Linked DNA regions of Homo sapiens: region 2 is linked to region 1. A link means that fine-mapping ties the variant in region 1 to the expression of a gene that starts in the linked region. Tissue or cell type: spinal cord. Region 1 holds a variant in brackets; the other region holds the start of a gene. All regions are shown on one strand. Distances are between the middles of the regions.

Region 1 (8,260 bases):
GAATGACATGTGTGATGGGGAAGATTATTGGACTTGCAAATAAAAACCAAGTTCAGATCCCCAGGAACGGTAAAAACAAAACAAAACACACTAGACCTCATACATGTTCATATACATATTTATATATATCTCATGTACAAAGTTACATTCTGAACCCCAGGGATTCCATAATAGAAATAAATACTGAAATAACTACATTGCTAAATGAGCTCTTTGCTCATAGAAATGAAGCTCAGCCTCTAAGAGACAGCAAGTGGGACATTCTAGAACCCATTTTTCAGATTATAGAGGCAAGTAAAATTCTGATAGAATGTCTTGGACAAAAAACGAATTTGGAACATAAAATGGTTAAGATATATTCAAATAGAGAAATGTATGACAAAATTAATAAAACTTAATCTTTTAAGAGAAAAGACAGACATTTAGTGTTACAGAATAGCATAACCCTGTTAGAAAAGCATTTATGATTTCCACATTTAATTTTCTCTTCTACTCTTCCCATGTTACAAAGTGGGACCAAATGAGTCCCTTTCTGAACATGATCAATTAAGAAGAGCCCTAAATCTGGTTGAGTCCTTTGGTAACGGTCATAATACTCACAAGGAAATAAATATTCAGTTCCATGGCATTTGCAAGACACATGTTCTTTAGGACAGTTAATATTATGACACATCTGTTTTATTTTGTTACTAAGGCAGCCTATGTTAAAGGGTCTCGTCTCAAATGTAGGAAGACCTTTACAAGAAATGAACAATACAGTAACTGAAAGAATTGATTTTAACCTTTTCTATGCAAACACAATCTGAAAAGTTATGTGCTGCATATTGTGCTCAAAATGTTTTATACTCTCCACAAGCTGCAATTAAGAGATTCATTCCTATTTTTAAAATTTAGATCCACATGGGTTAGAGAAAAATACTCTCAAAAGTGAGTTCCTAGAGAATATTATCCCTTTGCCTCACAGAGATTTTAACCTGCATTTAAGAGTAAGTGTTAGGTTGAGGCATATGATATTGTCGCTTTTGCAGATCAGCAATGGTTGAACACTGGCAATTTCATATGGTTCAACCTTGCACATGACTCAAGTGTAAAAAAAGGAGAAACCTTCAAGTATTCCTTATTTCTTCCAATAGGGGTACACTTTTTTTGTACAGTGAGATCAACCCAAAGTACGCAAGCCTCTTCTCTCCCTTGATGTGGTAGCTACAGGCAGTTACATTCCTTTGCTGCTTGTGAGAAGCTTACATTTTGGCATTTTCTTCCAAAAATTACCACGTTGACCAAAGTAAACATTACAAGAATATGAACTTGTTATTGGGGGAAAGGGGAAGTGAAGCAATCTGTAGAAAATATTTAACTGAAATTACAAACATAAGGACAAGCCTTTAAAGCAAATTATACAGGCATTTTTGTCCTCTCTCTGGTCCCTGCAGTTAATTAACAGGGCCACAGATAATCTGACATCTTTAGATAAAACAACTACACACCTATATTACTTAAGTTAAAGCCAGTAAGTTCAAAAAAAGCAATTACAACCATTTGACATGTTTGTATTTTTCATCTCTAACTCCTGATTTCCTAAATTACATTCAGTCATACAAACATGGCTGAACAACAGCAAATGGGATCTGACTCTGGGATGTTTACTTCTTGGGATTAAAATTCCCAAACACTTTGGTGTCTCTTTCTTGTGAATCTATACAACATTTCCAATAAATGTTTAATAATGATTTTTTAAAAGATATTGCCAAAAATGGCTCAGATTTAAGATGAAATAAAAACATAGCAAACAAGCTATGGAAAAGTAGCCTACATTTTGGTGCCCTGCAAAAAAGTGACTAAGTAGCTCAAGCAAAAAATTATTCTTTTAATACAGCTTTTACCAAAACAGTTTTAATACATGAGTGGCTACAATTTTATTGTGTACACAATGTGCTTATAGTCACATGTGGCCCAATGGATCCAAATGCCTCCTCTGGCTCATGAAATCCCATGTACTTCACAATCTAGCCTAATCGTGTATATGCATAAAAGCCACTGGTATACTTTTTACAGACATCTTTGTATAATAGTCCAGAAAAAAAAAATCAGTGGTACTTAAGAATGTTTAGACAATTTGACATCTACGTTTGCTTTCTTTTCTTTTCAGTAGTCCTTCTGATGATTGGGGGCCTTTATCCCATAGGTTTATACTGTTAAAACAGTACATAAAATTACATTTAGCTTTGCTTCGGACCGGCGCGGGGGCTCACGCCTGTAATTCAAGCACTTCGGGAGGCCAAGGCGGGTAGATCATCTGAGGTCAGGAGTTTGAGACCAGCCTGGCCAATGTGGTGAAACCCTGTCTCTACTAAAAATACAAAAATTAGCTGGGCAGGGTGGCACACACCTGTAATCCCAGCTACTTGGGAGGCTGAGGCAGGAGAACTACTTGAACCTGAGAGGTGGAGGTTGCAGTGAGCTGAGATCGCACCACTGCATTCCAGCCTGGGCAACAGAGCCAGACTCCGTCTCAAAAAAAAAAAAAAAAATCATATTTAGCTTTGCCTAGAGTAATAGATAAAAAAGGGTAAATCACACATTTTCAAGAAGCTTGAGAGGGAAAAAATTGCAGCATCGTGGTTTTAAAAAACTTATTAAGCAAGAAAATCAGTGAAATCCAGACTTTAATCTATTTTTTGCTTGTTTGTCTGTTTTGAGACAGGGTCTTGCTCCGTCACCCAGGCTGGAGTGCAGTGGTGCTATCAAGGCTCACTGCAACCTCCACCTCCTGGGCCCAGGTCATCCTCCCACCTCAGCCTCCCAAGTAGCTGGGACTACAGGCATGTGCCACCACACCCGGTTAATTTATTTTGTTTTTTTTTTTTGGTAGAGACAGGGTTTCGCCATGTTGCCCAGGCTGGTCTTGAACTCCTGGGCTCAAGCAATCCATCTGCCTCAGCCTCCTAAAGTGTTGGGATTACAGGCGTGAGCCACCATGCCCAACCTATTTTTTTTTTTTAATGGGCATTGTGAATGAAAATATGTAATGTCAACCTTTACTTTATGGTATCTTAGGTTTGTCTTCTTCCCCTTCATAGTTTTCCCCTTTGAGGATAACCCTTCAAGCTCAAAAGGGCACAAAAGCTAAAACGTTATTCACGTACAAAATACCAAGTATATAGCTGTTCTGCAGTTTGATACAGAACAAAAGAAAATAACTTTTCTAATTAAATCCCTCATTCTGTACTTAGGCCAGACTCCATCCCCACTACAGTTTTACTTGTATTAACAGGTTAAGAGCAATCTAGGAACATTTGGCAAACAAGTACATTTTTTACATGGAAAAAACTCAATCAACATCACCATTCTCTGGTACAAGAAATACAAAACACATTTCCTTTAAAAAATCCTCCCAGTGCTGAAGTATCTTCTAAGCTTCCCAGAGTATGTCCTAAGCTTTATAAATAATAAATCTTTCAGACATGTCAGTATGAAAATGAGACTGGTCTCAAAAAAAACCCATCAGAATATTCAGAGAAGTAGGCCTCATAAACTTTAGAGCTCTAATAAGTCAGAAACAGGAAACGTTTATTTAAATAGTGTAGTCTTAATTTCTTTAATATAAAACCCCCCCAAATCTGATGAAAACAAAGTTTTATATACCATATAAACAAGATTTGTCAGATTTGAAAGTGAAAGTTAAAGTAATTTACAGTTAGCTTTTAACCCTCTCGGGACATTTAGATACATCCTGATAATCCATCTTGTATTAGTGTGTGTCAATTTTACAATACACTGGGGAAAACTCAGCTATTGTATTTAACGGTACAGTTTCATTTATCAAGTGTTTCCCATTAATTCCATTATTAGTGACAGCTAACAAGTGACCCCATCAAATGAAGTGAATGACATTAGACTGTGGCAGAGTAAA[C/T]CACATCTGGATTGCTTTCTATAATTCACCAGTTTGCAGGAAGTAAACATTCTTTGATTTGTTCATAATATACTGAAGTTACCTATAACACTGGTGCAGTAACACAGCTAGTTCCTCTGTATTGTTATGGTAGAACGGATTTTGTAATATAAAGTTAACAGGAAAAAATGCTCACACATTATGTGGTGAAACTTATCTCACAAAAGAGCATTAAATAAAAGGATAGAGGGAAAATAAACCATGCAGAAGAGACGGCTTCCCCATCTCCACCTGTTTCCCATGGGCTCACTCATTGCCATACATCACTTGCCACACTATCAAGTGACTCCTTTCTGCTTTGGTGACAGAAGGTTCAAGTGGAAGATCCTCTCCAAGAAGTTCTGATTCTCCACCTTCATCACCTAGTGAATGATAAGAAGACTCAAGTTAGGCTGAACACATAAAATATAGAATGATGTGAGTCAGATGTAATGCTCGTGGTTAGTCCATGAACAAGATGCCCAAAACTTGTCTGACTTTCACTGGAGAGTAAATAGTAGAAGAAATACTAAGAGTCAGAATCCTCACCCATATTCACCCAAGCCACTGCTTGACTTCAGAAAAGGTTAATTCATTTTTCAGACTGTATTTATAAAATCCAGTTCACTATACTACGTTAAAAAGCCACCCCAACATGTCTGCATACCGATGGTCCAGACATGGGAAGCTAAGAAGGCAATTCTGTGTTCATCCAAAATGAAGAGTCTACTGTCACTTATTTTAAACTAAGAACTGAGAATAGTGTTATAAAATGCGTGAGCACAGGTACAGAGCAAACTAACTAAACCCAAATAACTCACAATTATCAATGACAGGTGTAATGTTCTCCAATTGAAGATAATTGACACAAGCATATGGAAATTAAAATAATTAGCCTGCAGCACTGCAGATGGCAGATTCACCAGCTACTGGGTTTTTCTTCCAATGATTTTCAAGTTTAGGATAGGTTACAAATTAACAGTGTATAATGGAAAAGGAGAAACAAAGAGGTTGGGGTAGCAGCCAAGATACAGGTTCTTCTGCATCACGGCTAAGTGAATGTGATCCATGGTGTCCTGATCAGACACTGGCTTCCAAGGCCCAGTCTGGGGTACACCACACTCCTCTCCATAAGACCCAGTGCAGGGCATACCATAATTCTCGATACAAGCTTGCATCAATTGTATCTGTTGTCACAGAGCAGGGTTATTTTGGCACAACCCAGTGAAAAGTTGTCTAGTGGGATGGATTCTTCAGCAGAATCCTAAAAACATACACACCACAGGACCTAAAGATATATTCCACTGATCTAACAGAATTTTGTAATGTGCCCCATGTGAATTTCAGCTGGACAAAAGAAAATATTGATACTGTTGACTAGAAACAACAGAAGAGAAAAAACCCTAAATATCTGCATTTTTCTCTGCAGGCCAAACTTTCCCTTACCCAGCCCTGTAATGGCCTTTTCACAGCAATATCAAACTAGAGAGAGGAGAACACTCAGTTCAAACTCCCATCTCTGAACTGAAACATACCCAGGTGGTTAGAAGGTAAAAAAATTAAGTTTGGCTCTTAAATTTTAAAAAATTTCAATGAAAAAAATTAACTGGCTGAGACAAAAGGCTGTCGCCATTTCTCTTCTGAGTTGTTCTGAAGATTTTACTTGTAAGAAAATTATCCTGTCTGCTAGGGTCTCTACAGCCTAAGTTTTAAGTTTAAATCATTAAAAATATGGGACTTTAGAATCAATTTCTCACTGTTAAAATATTACAGGAAATGAAAAAGGAAATGGACCCCCAAAAAAGATCAAATTTGATTTTTTACAACAGTATATTCACTATTAAAATTAGCCTATGCTAAAGACAAGTCTGTTTTTCAGGCTGGAAATAACTAGAGATACTGCCAAACCTGGTTAAGCAATTTTTGTTCTATTTTCAGGATCCACAATGGAAGGAATTTTTAGTGGAAATGGAAAAACCACATAGAGATTTTATTAACAAACTCCTCAGTACGGTTCCAACTGACATACTGCACTCCAACACAAAGTTACAAAAATCACCCCAGCCAAGTGGAGTCCCTAACAACTCCTCTCATAAAAGGGAATTCAACAATAGTCAATTATTCAAAACACTTTGAAATGACTCCATTCCTGCTGACATCCCTGGAATCAATTTCTAAAGTTCACACTAACAGCCTTCCCCTCTTAAAAGTGTCAACAAACTTTTTGCATCAGATATTGGTGACACTAATCACATTTGTCACATTGTCATTTAAATGACCCTAATTTTTTTTTATTCCTTTACAGAATTCATATCTAAAGTATTTGTTACTGATCTACAACACTATTATATTCTCTCAAACTGCCTACTGCCTTATGTCTGGGAACTTTTTGAAGCACTGAGATTTTAAGCGAGTCCAAGGGATCAGTTTATTTATAGCAAATAAGCTGGGTGCGGTGCCTCATGCCTGTAATCCCAGCACTTTGGGAGGCTGAGGCAGGTGGACTGTTTGAGGCCAGGAGTTCGAGACCAGCCTGGCCAACATGGTGAAACCCCGTCTCTACTAAAAATACAAAAATTAACCAGGCGTGGTGGCACATGCCTGAAATCCCAGCTACTCGGGAGGCTGAGGCATGAGAATTGCTTGAAACCGGGAGGTGGAGGTTGCAGTGAGCCAAGATTGTGCCACTGCACTCCAGCCTGGGTGACAGAGTGTGAGACTCTGTCTCAAAAAAGAAAAATTATAGCAAATAAATAAACATATTTGTACAGTGTCTTACAATTTACAAAGCACTACTCTTTCACGAGCATCAGTTCTCCATGTTTTCTTTGTACCTCTCTGGCCATTCCTTCTCAGATCCCTCCATAAGCTCTAATGATCTTTAAATGGAGTATGAATTCAGGGTTCTATCCTGGAACCTTTCCTTTTTCTTTCTTTTCTTTTTTTGAGATGGAGTCTCACTCTGTCACCCAGGCTGGAGTGCAGTGGTGTGATCTCGGCTCACTGCAACCTCCACCTCCCGGGTTCAAGTGATTCTCCTGCCTCAGCCTCCTGAATAGCTGGGATTACAGGTACACGGCATCACGCTCAGCTAATTTTTGTATTTTTATTAGAGACTGGGTTTAGCCACTGGAACCTTTTCTTTTAGCTCCTTGGGCGAACTCACCAACCCTCATGGCTTTTAGTACCACTCCATGCTGACAGCCCCCAAATCCCTCCCTCCTAAGATAGAGGACCTGTATATTCAGAAGCCCAGTGGAAATTTCCCACCTAAATCACCACTATGCTCTTCAAGATCAACATGATCAGCACTGGACTCCTCTTTCCGTCCCTCCAGACCTGCTTCTCCTGTTGACAGTCCTGAGCTCTATGGCCCATTCTCTCCTTCCCCACATTCTCATCATGCTTCTTATCTGTTCACACTGTTACTACCTTTCTTGGGCATTCACTTGTTCCCAACTCATTTCCCTAGGTCTAGTCTTGAACCTCCAGTCCATCCTTCACACAACTCTAATCACATTGCTCCTATAGTTCTCTTTTGCTTGAAAGATAAAGTACAATCTTCTTAATCTGGTATGTAAAGGCCTCCCATACTCCAGTCCCTCCCTCCCTTTTGACAACAAATTCATACTTTCTTCTACTCCACACTCTTGTCATTTTAAAATAGTTTTTCTTCCATTAAAATGGTTTCATATCTCTAAACCTTTGGCCAAGCTATTCTCTTACCTCGGAGTGCCAACCCCTGGTCCTCCCCACCCCATTCCCCAACCTGACCCTTTGTGCTAAGACTATGCAGTGCTGAGTCACCTCAAGCATCATTTCTTGACTTCCTTCTCTCCCTACCCTTGGAAAGAACTGACTACTCACTACCAGAGCATCAGTAACATTTTAATTTATTAACATGTCTCTATCTCTGCACTGTTCTATAATCTATTAGACGAAGGCTTTGTCTGATTTGTTTCTGTATCTCCAGTTTAAGAATGACAGGTACACAGTAGGTGCTCAATTAATGTTTGTTAGGTGAGAAAATGAACAAATGAAGTTGTTTAAGAAATATTTTTATTTCTCCATTTTGACAGAAAACCGAGGCTCTAAGAGGTTGAATGACTTGTCCAAGGCCTTCTGACCCTAAATCCTATGCTTTTCACATAAAACTTCACATTGACCACATCCTGCTATTTCTAATGCTCCTTTCAAACAAATACATTTTGGTATGAAAAGAAATACCAAGGGCCGGGTGCGGTGGCTCGGGCTTGTAATCCCAGCTGGAAGGCCGAGGCAGGCGGATCACTTGAGGTCAGGAGTTTGAGAATAGCCTGGCCAACATGG
Region 2 (8,000 bases), 150 kb after region 1:
CTGCCCAGGCTGGAGTACAGAGGCACGATCCCAGCTCACTGCAACCTCCATCTCCCGGGTTCAAGCAATTCTTCTGCATCAGCCTCCCCAGTAGCTGGGATTACAGGCACCCACCACCACACCCAGATAATTTTTGTATTTTTAGTACAGACAGGGTTTCATCATGTTGGCGAGGCTGGTCCCACACTCCTGACCTCAAGTGATCCATCTGCCTCGGCCTCCCAAAGTGCTGGGACTATAGATGTGAGCCACCACACCTGGCCCTTTTTTAAAAGTTACAGCAAATCATGCCTGTTTTAAAAGAATCAGAAGTTGCAGAAAAACCCTAACATACCCAGTTATAACCTCTCTCTCCAGATCATTTTGTATCCAGATTTTTATTTTAAAAAATCACTGGGCTGGGGCACAGTGGCTCACCCCTGTAAGTCCCAACACTTTGGCAGGATCCACAAGGCAGGAGGATCACTTGAGCCCAGGAGTTCCAGACCAGACTGGGCAACACAGTGAGACCTTGTCTCTGTAAAAAATTTAATTAGCCCAGTGTGGTAACGCATGTCTGTGGTCCTAGCTACTCAGGAGGCTGAGGCAAGAGGATCACTTGAGCCCAAGAGATTGAGGCTGCAGTGAACTGTGACTGTGCCACTACACCCCAGCCTAGGCGATTGAGACTCTGTCTCCAAAAAGAATTTAAATTTAAAAGTCACTGATTTTAAAATAAATTATTCAATAGGTTCACAGGGCTTATTCTGGATAGAGTCAACAGGATGTTCTGGCTGAAAAAGTGAAATTGAAACAGAGTAGAAAGTGAGGAGCTAGCTATGTAAAATTCTAAGGAGAGCATTCTAGAGCATGGGCAAAGGCATCAGACGGGTCTTGGTTAAAGAATGGAGAGGTGTGTCACAGGCAGCCCAAAGGAGAGAGTGATGGGCGATAAGATGACAGATTTCTTGATTAGCATCTGAAACCGGTCCAAATCTATCTAAAATTAGCCCTTCTTTAGGTTGTTTTTAAAGAATCCCTAAAACAGCAGACTAGCTCCACACTAGAAATTCAAATAAAAGCAAAGGAAAAAGTCAGAAGGTATTCAAAATATGTCCTATCAATATAAAGATTAAATTTTTGATGCCTTGCTGAGAATTCCTGCAAGCAAGAGATCATAGCACCTCACACATTCCTAAAACATTCTATCTACATACCCACCTAAGTTTCCACAGAGGTGCTCAGAATTTACTTTACTCTCTCTGGTGATGGATAATTTCCATGCTTTCAAATCACTTTTGCTGTAAATACCCTGAGGCACTTACTTTGGTATAAAAGACTCTTGGTCTCCGCATTAAAGACACAAACAGGCCGGCACGGTGGCTCATGCCTGTAATCCCAGCACTTTGGGAGGCTGAGGCGGGCAGATCACGAGGTCAGGAGATTGAGACTATCCTGGCTAAAATGGTGAAACCCCGTCTCTACCAAAAATACAAAAAAATTAGCCAGGCGTGGTGGCACGTGCTTGTAATCCCAGCTACTCAAGAGGCTGAGGCAGAATCGCTTGAACCCGGGAGGCGGAGGCTGCAGTGAGTCAAGATTGTGCCACTGCACTCCAGCCTGGGTGACAGAGCAAGACTCCGTCTCAAAAAAAAAAAAAAAAAAAAAAAAGGCGCAAACAAAGCACTCACAGAAAACTAAACACAGAATTCACTCTACATATTGGCCAAAGGGAGACAATTTCTGGATACTGAGCAACACACAATTTATGATCTTATGTGAAAACTGATGGCCGGGTGTGGTGGCTCACATCTGTAATCCCAGTACTTTGGGAGGCTGAGGCGAGTGGATTGCCTGAGCTCAGGAGTTCAAGACCAGCCTGGGCAACAAGGTGAAACCCCGTCTCTACTAAAATACAAAATATATATACATATTAGCTGGGCGGGGTGGCACGTGCCTATAGTCCCAGCTACTCGGGCGGCTGAGGCAGAAGAATTGCTTGAACCCGGGAGGCAGTGAGCCGAGATCGTGCCACTGCACTCCAGCCTGGCGACAGAGAGAGACTCTGTCTCAAAAAAAAAAAAAAAGAGAAAAGAAAACTGATAACAAGGTGTGTTTATGTTTGTGGCCTGGGAGTGGGCTCATTTAGCATTTCATAAATGTTCTCTGTTCTCAGGTCATGACCCTTTGCCCAATGGTTTCACTATGGAGAATTTACAGATGTAACTGAAAAAATATAAACTACAAATAAATTCATTGGATAACCTATTTTTTTTAGAGTCATTTACTCAAGAAATTAATAGGGAACCCAGAGTCTAGCAGTCGGGCAATTTTGTTTTCTGATTCTGCAACCTGTGGCAGATGGTTTTCTTGGCACGTGTGACCCTGGCATTTTGCCCATATTTACACGGACTGACAGGAGTTTAAGGCTGGAGGGAGCATTTATTTTACGTGAGGTAAAAGGTCATGTCAGGCTTGCTTGTCACCTGTGTGTACATGTGGTTAATTCCCAGTCACTTCCATGTATATCCACACACTGGCAAGGGGCTATATGAGCATGAAGCAGCAAGTAGCACTTGACCTCTGTTCTATAAAGAGTGCTAACAAACAAGCGGAAATTGTGATCCTATCATTATTTGGTTTTTCATCCCTTCCTTCCCTATATGAAAGGAAAAGCTCTTGAAATAGTCCATTCTGGCGGGGTGCGGTGGCTCATGCCTGTAATCCCAGCACTGGGATGGTCAGCCCGAGGCCAAAGTGGGCAGATCACTTGAGGCCAGGAGTTCAAGACCATCCTAGGCACCATGGAGAAATCCTGTCTCTACAAAAAACAAAAATGAGCGGGGAGTGTTGTCCTAGCTCCTTAGGAAGCTGAGGCACAAGAATCGCTTGAACCCGGCAGGCAGAGGTTGCAGTGAGCCAAGATCACTCCACTGCACTTCACCCTGGGCGACAGAGTGAGACTACGTCTCAAAAAAAAAAAAAAAAAAAGGCAATTTTGTTTGGCAAATTCAATAGCATTCCTTTGAGAAAATTGGATCCCACAATCAGAACTAAAAATCATCACTACAGTCAAGCTTTTAAAAAAGGAAAAAGAACTATTTAACCAGATGCAAAGGTATACGTGACAAAATAAAACAAAAATTTAATGGTGTTACTATTCAGTGTCAGGAAATGAGCTACAAACCTCACATCCTAAAAACTCTTCAAGTCTTTTTGAAAAATACTATGTCATTCCTTCAATAATTAGTTATTTCGCCTCCTTTGATCACCATGTATTTAAGCAGGTGTGCTAGGTGCTTGAGAAACAAAAATAGGACACATCACCTGCCTTTGATAAGGTCCACAGAAATAACGCCAACGCAGGCTGAAAGCTAAACTCCTTGTCAGTCTCAAGAAGCCAAGGACCTATCACTTGCACCCTAGAACTCCAAAAGGTTCACAGAGTCGAGGTGAGGGCGCCCAGGTCACTGCTCGGGTGCTAGAGTTAACAGGTGGCCAAATGCACGTATAAACAGCAGTCTAAGAAGGAAACTCAGACGGAAAAAGTGTTGCCAACTGTCACCTACATCTTCCCAACCCCGCCCCCCAATCCTTTTTATAAATAAACGGAGGGTTTTTGAAGGGAACTGTCCAAGGTTACAACCTGATACGGAGGAATGCTTTGGTTTGGGATACCAACGAAATTGTTTATATATTTATTGAGTACTGCCACACAACATCTAAAAGTTGACAAAGTGTCAACCAAGGCACATAGAACATAAAATAAGACGTCTTTCTCAACAAGATTAAAACGTCAAGAAGAAACTGACCGAAAGAGGGAGATCTCTAACTTCCCAAAGCAAGGCAACCCCCTGGAAAGGTACTGGAACTAGCGGAAGTTACATATCCAGGGCAGAAGTGTCCCCCTCCCCAAGGGTAAAACTTTGAACCGCCATCTGACTATCCCACGGTGGTCGGAAACTTCCCTCAACAAGAAGCAACCAGACACCCAACAATCTCCGCCCTTGGCCAACCCCAGGTGTCCTCAGGCCAGGCTGCCGCTTCCTCCCCGGGCCCTGCCTCCTCCATCTCGCTCCCTTCCCAGGACACTCAGTAGCCGGCCTCGGCTTCCAACGCCGGCCTGGCTCCCGGGGTACCTGGAGGCCGCCGGGATCGGTCCCAGGGGGCATCGGCCTCAGGCCCGCCCTCCAGGAGGCCCGTCGCGCCTCTAGTCCCCGACCGGGCCGCGACCCCGCCCCGGCCGCCCCCGGAGACGGATCCCGCGGCCCCCGCCCTGCCGCCGGCCTCACCTCCTCAGCGTGCTTGCGCAGCGCCTTCTCCCGCTCGTACTGGGTGATGAGCTGCTCGTTGTCGTCCCGCAGCAGCTCCAGCTCCACCTGGTGCTCCTGGTCCTGCGCGAACACCGAGTCCAGGTTCTCCAGCACAGCCACCACCAGCGGCATCAGCTCTTTGACCACCTCCTCGTCATAGCGCCCGATAAGCCGCTCGAACTCGCGGTAGATGGAGCCGGCCAGGCCGGACACCCGCTCCGACATCACGGCCCCGGAGCCGCCGGGCTCCTCCTGATACACCACACCGTCCTCCAGCTCCATGGTGGCAAGCGGACGGGCGGGCGGCCCGGGGCGTCGCCGGCAGAGGGGCGGCACCTGCCCGCACGGGACGGACCCGACTCGGGCTGGGACGGGTACTAGGGCTGGAGCCCGGGCCGGGGCTGGGGCTGGGCCCGGCGGGGTGGGGGCCGGGGCCGGAGGAGGGGAGGGGTGGCGTAGGCGCTCTCACCCCAACCGCCGCTGCACCAACTGCCGGGGCGGCCCGGCCGCGCGCGCCACACGTCATCCGCGGGGCGGGGCCGGCGCCGCGTCGGCCCGATGGGCGGGGCGCCGCGGGAGGCCAGGCGCGGCCGGGGGCGGGGCCAAGCGTCTTCGGGCGCTGGCGGAGGAAGCCATGGCGTCAACACCCGGCGCCGCGAAGACGGTGCGGGCGCCAATGGGAAAGACTGCGGTCGGCGGGTGGGGAGAAGTATCCATCCACAGCGGGATTCGCGGGGCGGGTCCCAGGGGAAAGGGAGGGGTTCGGGAAGAGTGACGAGTTAACTTAGCTGGCATTTCTATGGCTTTTTAAAGCTCACAAAGCACCTACTCACTTCATCCCCACAACAGGCGTAAAGAGGTAGATATTTGGACCTCGTTTCACAGACAAAGAAACTAGGCCCAGGAAAGTGGCGTTGCTCTCAAGGTCACGCAGCTACAACGGGAAACGGGCTGAGCCGGGACTCAAACCAATTACCCAGATTGAGAATTCCGGGCTCCGAAAAAAACTGGAAACAGAAAGGGAGGGAAAAAAAACCATAACCAGGGTCTGCCCAAGTGGAAAGGTGGTCTCGAATAGAATAGAACTGTTTTGTGCTATGGAAGAGCAAGGGTGAGATGAGGGGAAATGGGAGTGACTGCTAATAGGTATGGGATTTCGTTTTGGGATAATAAAAATGTTCTAAAAAATGTATTATAGTGATGAATACACAACTCTAAATATGCTAAAAGACATTCAACTTTACACGTTAAGTGAGTGAATCATATGGCGTGTGAATTATATCTCAAGTTATTAAAAAATAAACAGGAAGGGTGATAGCATTCTGGAGAAGGGTGAAACTGGAACGTTACATGTGGCACTTTCCCACATAGTGTGTCTGCTACTTCTGGCCAACTTGGGACGGGGACATTTCCAGGCTCCAGCCACCCTCCTCTCCTCAAGTCTTGAAGTGGGGCGGAAAGGGTAAGTGGGAGGTTGGGGAACAGAGGAGGTAAGGGGTGGAGTCACTGGAGTGAATAAGTCCCATGACAAGTGAGGTTTCTGCCGCCTGGGAGAGTGTCACGTGTGGGGAATGACACAACGCCCACGCCTAGAGCGGGCTGAGTCAAGGATCCCGGTGTGCTCATCTAACGTCCGCAAATGGGACGGAAGACACTCTCAAAAGTCCCTTCTCTGTGTCTCAGGTGACTCAGCTCTCCGTCCCGACTCGTTTAAGAAAAGGGGGAGGAAAGGCAGGATAAACATAGGTTTAAGGGGAGAATTGGCCACCCACCGGGATCATAACTACCCTTAGCTTGGGGTTTACAAGTTTAAGTACTTCCCACCAAGTATGAAGTAGTCCCCTAAAGTTTCCTACGCATGACCCACCTGGAGACCCATAAAAACAATATGAAGGTTGGGCAAGAGTAAACCTATAAATTTGGAAGGACAAAGATGAAAATACTAAGTCTTATGAAGTGCCAGATGGGACTGAATTTGCGGCCTGTGTTTTTTCCCGTTCTCACCCTCACCCCACATTCACCCTTATGTCATTTAGATATTTGGGTAGTAGGAATGCCGACCAGCTGGTTGGCTGTGAGCCGCAAATGCCCTTTCTCTTCTTAACCTTTCATATTTGAAAACTAGAAAAAGTCTTGATCTGAATCTCTCCTCTTTTATTTTCTCTTCCTGAGGGCTGTCACTCACCTGGTCTACCTATATGCATGCCTCTCTTTTCCTGGGGGATCAGAAGAGCCAAAAAACATAGGGCAAGGCTTTACTTTTTCTTTCCACAATATTATCATACACATCAAAAAATTTAAAGAAAAAAGTATCAGCCGGGCGTGGTGACTCATGCCTGTAACCCAGCACTTTGGGAGGCCGAGGCGGGTGGATCACAAGGTCAGGAGTTCAAGACCAGCCTGAACAATATGGTGAAACCCCATTTCTACTAAAAAGTACAAAAATTAGTCGGGCATGGTGGTGCACACCTATAATCCCAGCTACTCAAGAGGCTGAGGCAGGAGAATAGCTTGAACCTGGGAGGCGGAGGTTGCAGTGAGCAGAGATCACACCATTGCACTCCAGCCTGGGCGACAGAGTGAGACTCCATCTCAAAAAAAAAAAGAAAAAAGAAAAAAGTATCGATTTTTCAAGTACGAGATTTTAATTGTCATTCCTAATAAGTATACTTCTTTAGGTATACGTTCAACATAGAAAGATACACACTTATGTCTTGATTTTAAGCTTCTGCCAGTTATCAGAGATAACATTTAGTTAAAATAAAATTCAGCTAAATAACCATCAGCTGATGAATGGATAAAATGTGACATAGGTATACAATGGACTATTATTTGGCAATAAAAAGAAAGTCGTTGGAGGGGAGGGGAGTAGGCGTGGTGGCTCGCGCCTGTAATCTCAGCACTTGCAAGAGGATGGCTTGTGCCATGAGTTGGAGACCAGCCTGGGCAACATAGTGAGACCTTCATCCCTGACAAAAAAAAAAAAAAAAATTTTTTTTGGCCAGGCACGGTGGCTTACACCTGTACTCCCAGCACTTTGGGAGGTCGAGGCGGGCGGATCACCTGAGGTCAGAGGTCAGATGTTCAAGATCAGCCTGACCAATATGGAGAAACCCTGTATCTACTAAAAATACAAAATTAGCCGGGCGTGGTGGCCCGCACCTGTATTCTTAGCTACTCAGGAGGCTGAGGCAGGAGAATCGCTTGAACCTGGGAGGCGGAGGTTGTGGTGAGCCAAGATCGAGCCATTGCACTCCAGCCTGGGCAACAAGAGCAAAACTCCGTCTCCAAAAAAAAAAAAAAAGAATAGAAAAGAAAACAAAAATTTTAAGTACATGCCATGACATAGCTGAATCTTTTTTTTTTTTTTGAGATGGAATTTCGCTCTTGTTGCCTAAGCTGGAGTGCAATGGTGCAACCTCAGCTCACCGAAACCTCCGCCTCCCAAGTTCAAGCGATTCTCCTGCCTCAGCCTCCCGAGTAGCTGGGATTACAGGTGTGCGCCACCACACCCGGCTAATTTTTTGTATTTTTAGTAGAAACAGGGTTTCACTACGTTAGCCAGGCTGATCTCAAACTCCTGACCTCAGGTGATCCACCCACCTTGGCCTCCCAAAGTGCTGGGATTACAGGCGTGAGCCACCATGCCCAGAGATACAGCTGAATCTTGAAAAAGCTAAGTGAAAGAAGTCAGTCACAAAGGACCAC

Which allele goes with the higher level. Positions count from the first base shown, and alleles are read on the strand shown. Sizes are in standard deviations (SD) of each study's normalised expression.
In carriers of allele T in region 1, the expression in spinal cord of the gene that starts at base 4,786 in region 2 tends to be higher than with C alone (moderate effect, 0.69 SD a copy in GTEx).

The links. PIP is the estimated chance that this variant, and not a neighbour inherited with it, causes the effect.
Region 2: SPAG9 starts here. The variant in region 1 is fine-mapped to the expression of SPAG9 in spinal cord (GTEx, PIP above 0.99).

What each region holds. Positions count from the first base shown.
Region 1 is chr17:50,962,074-50,970,333 of GRCh38, forward strand. It overlaps SPAG9 (sperm associated antigen 9), which reads right to left. Exons shown (of 30, transcript NM_001130528.3): 30 at 101-4,314. The coding sequence ends at 4,199. Among named protein-coding and RNA genes, the nearest start is that of TOB1-AS1, 100 kb to the left of the region's middle. The variant C/T (reference allele first, on the strand shown) is at 3,914.
Region 2 is chr17:51,116,083-51,124,082 of GRCh38, forward strand. SPAG9 (sperm associated antigen 9) reads right to left here and starts at 4,786. Exons shown (of 30, transcript NM_001130528.3): 1 at 4,272-4,786. The coding sequence starts at 4,574. RefSeq lists enhancers at 531-590, 701-790, 821-920, 4,299-4,418, 4,708-5,522 and 2 more and silencers at 4,039-4,168, 4,189-4,268, 4,519-4,898.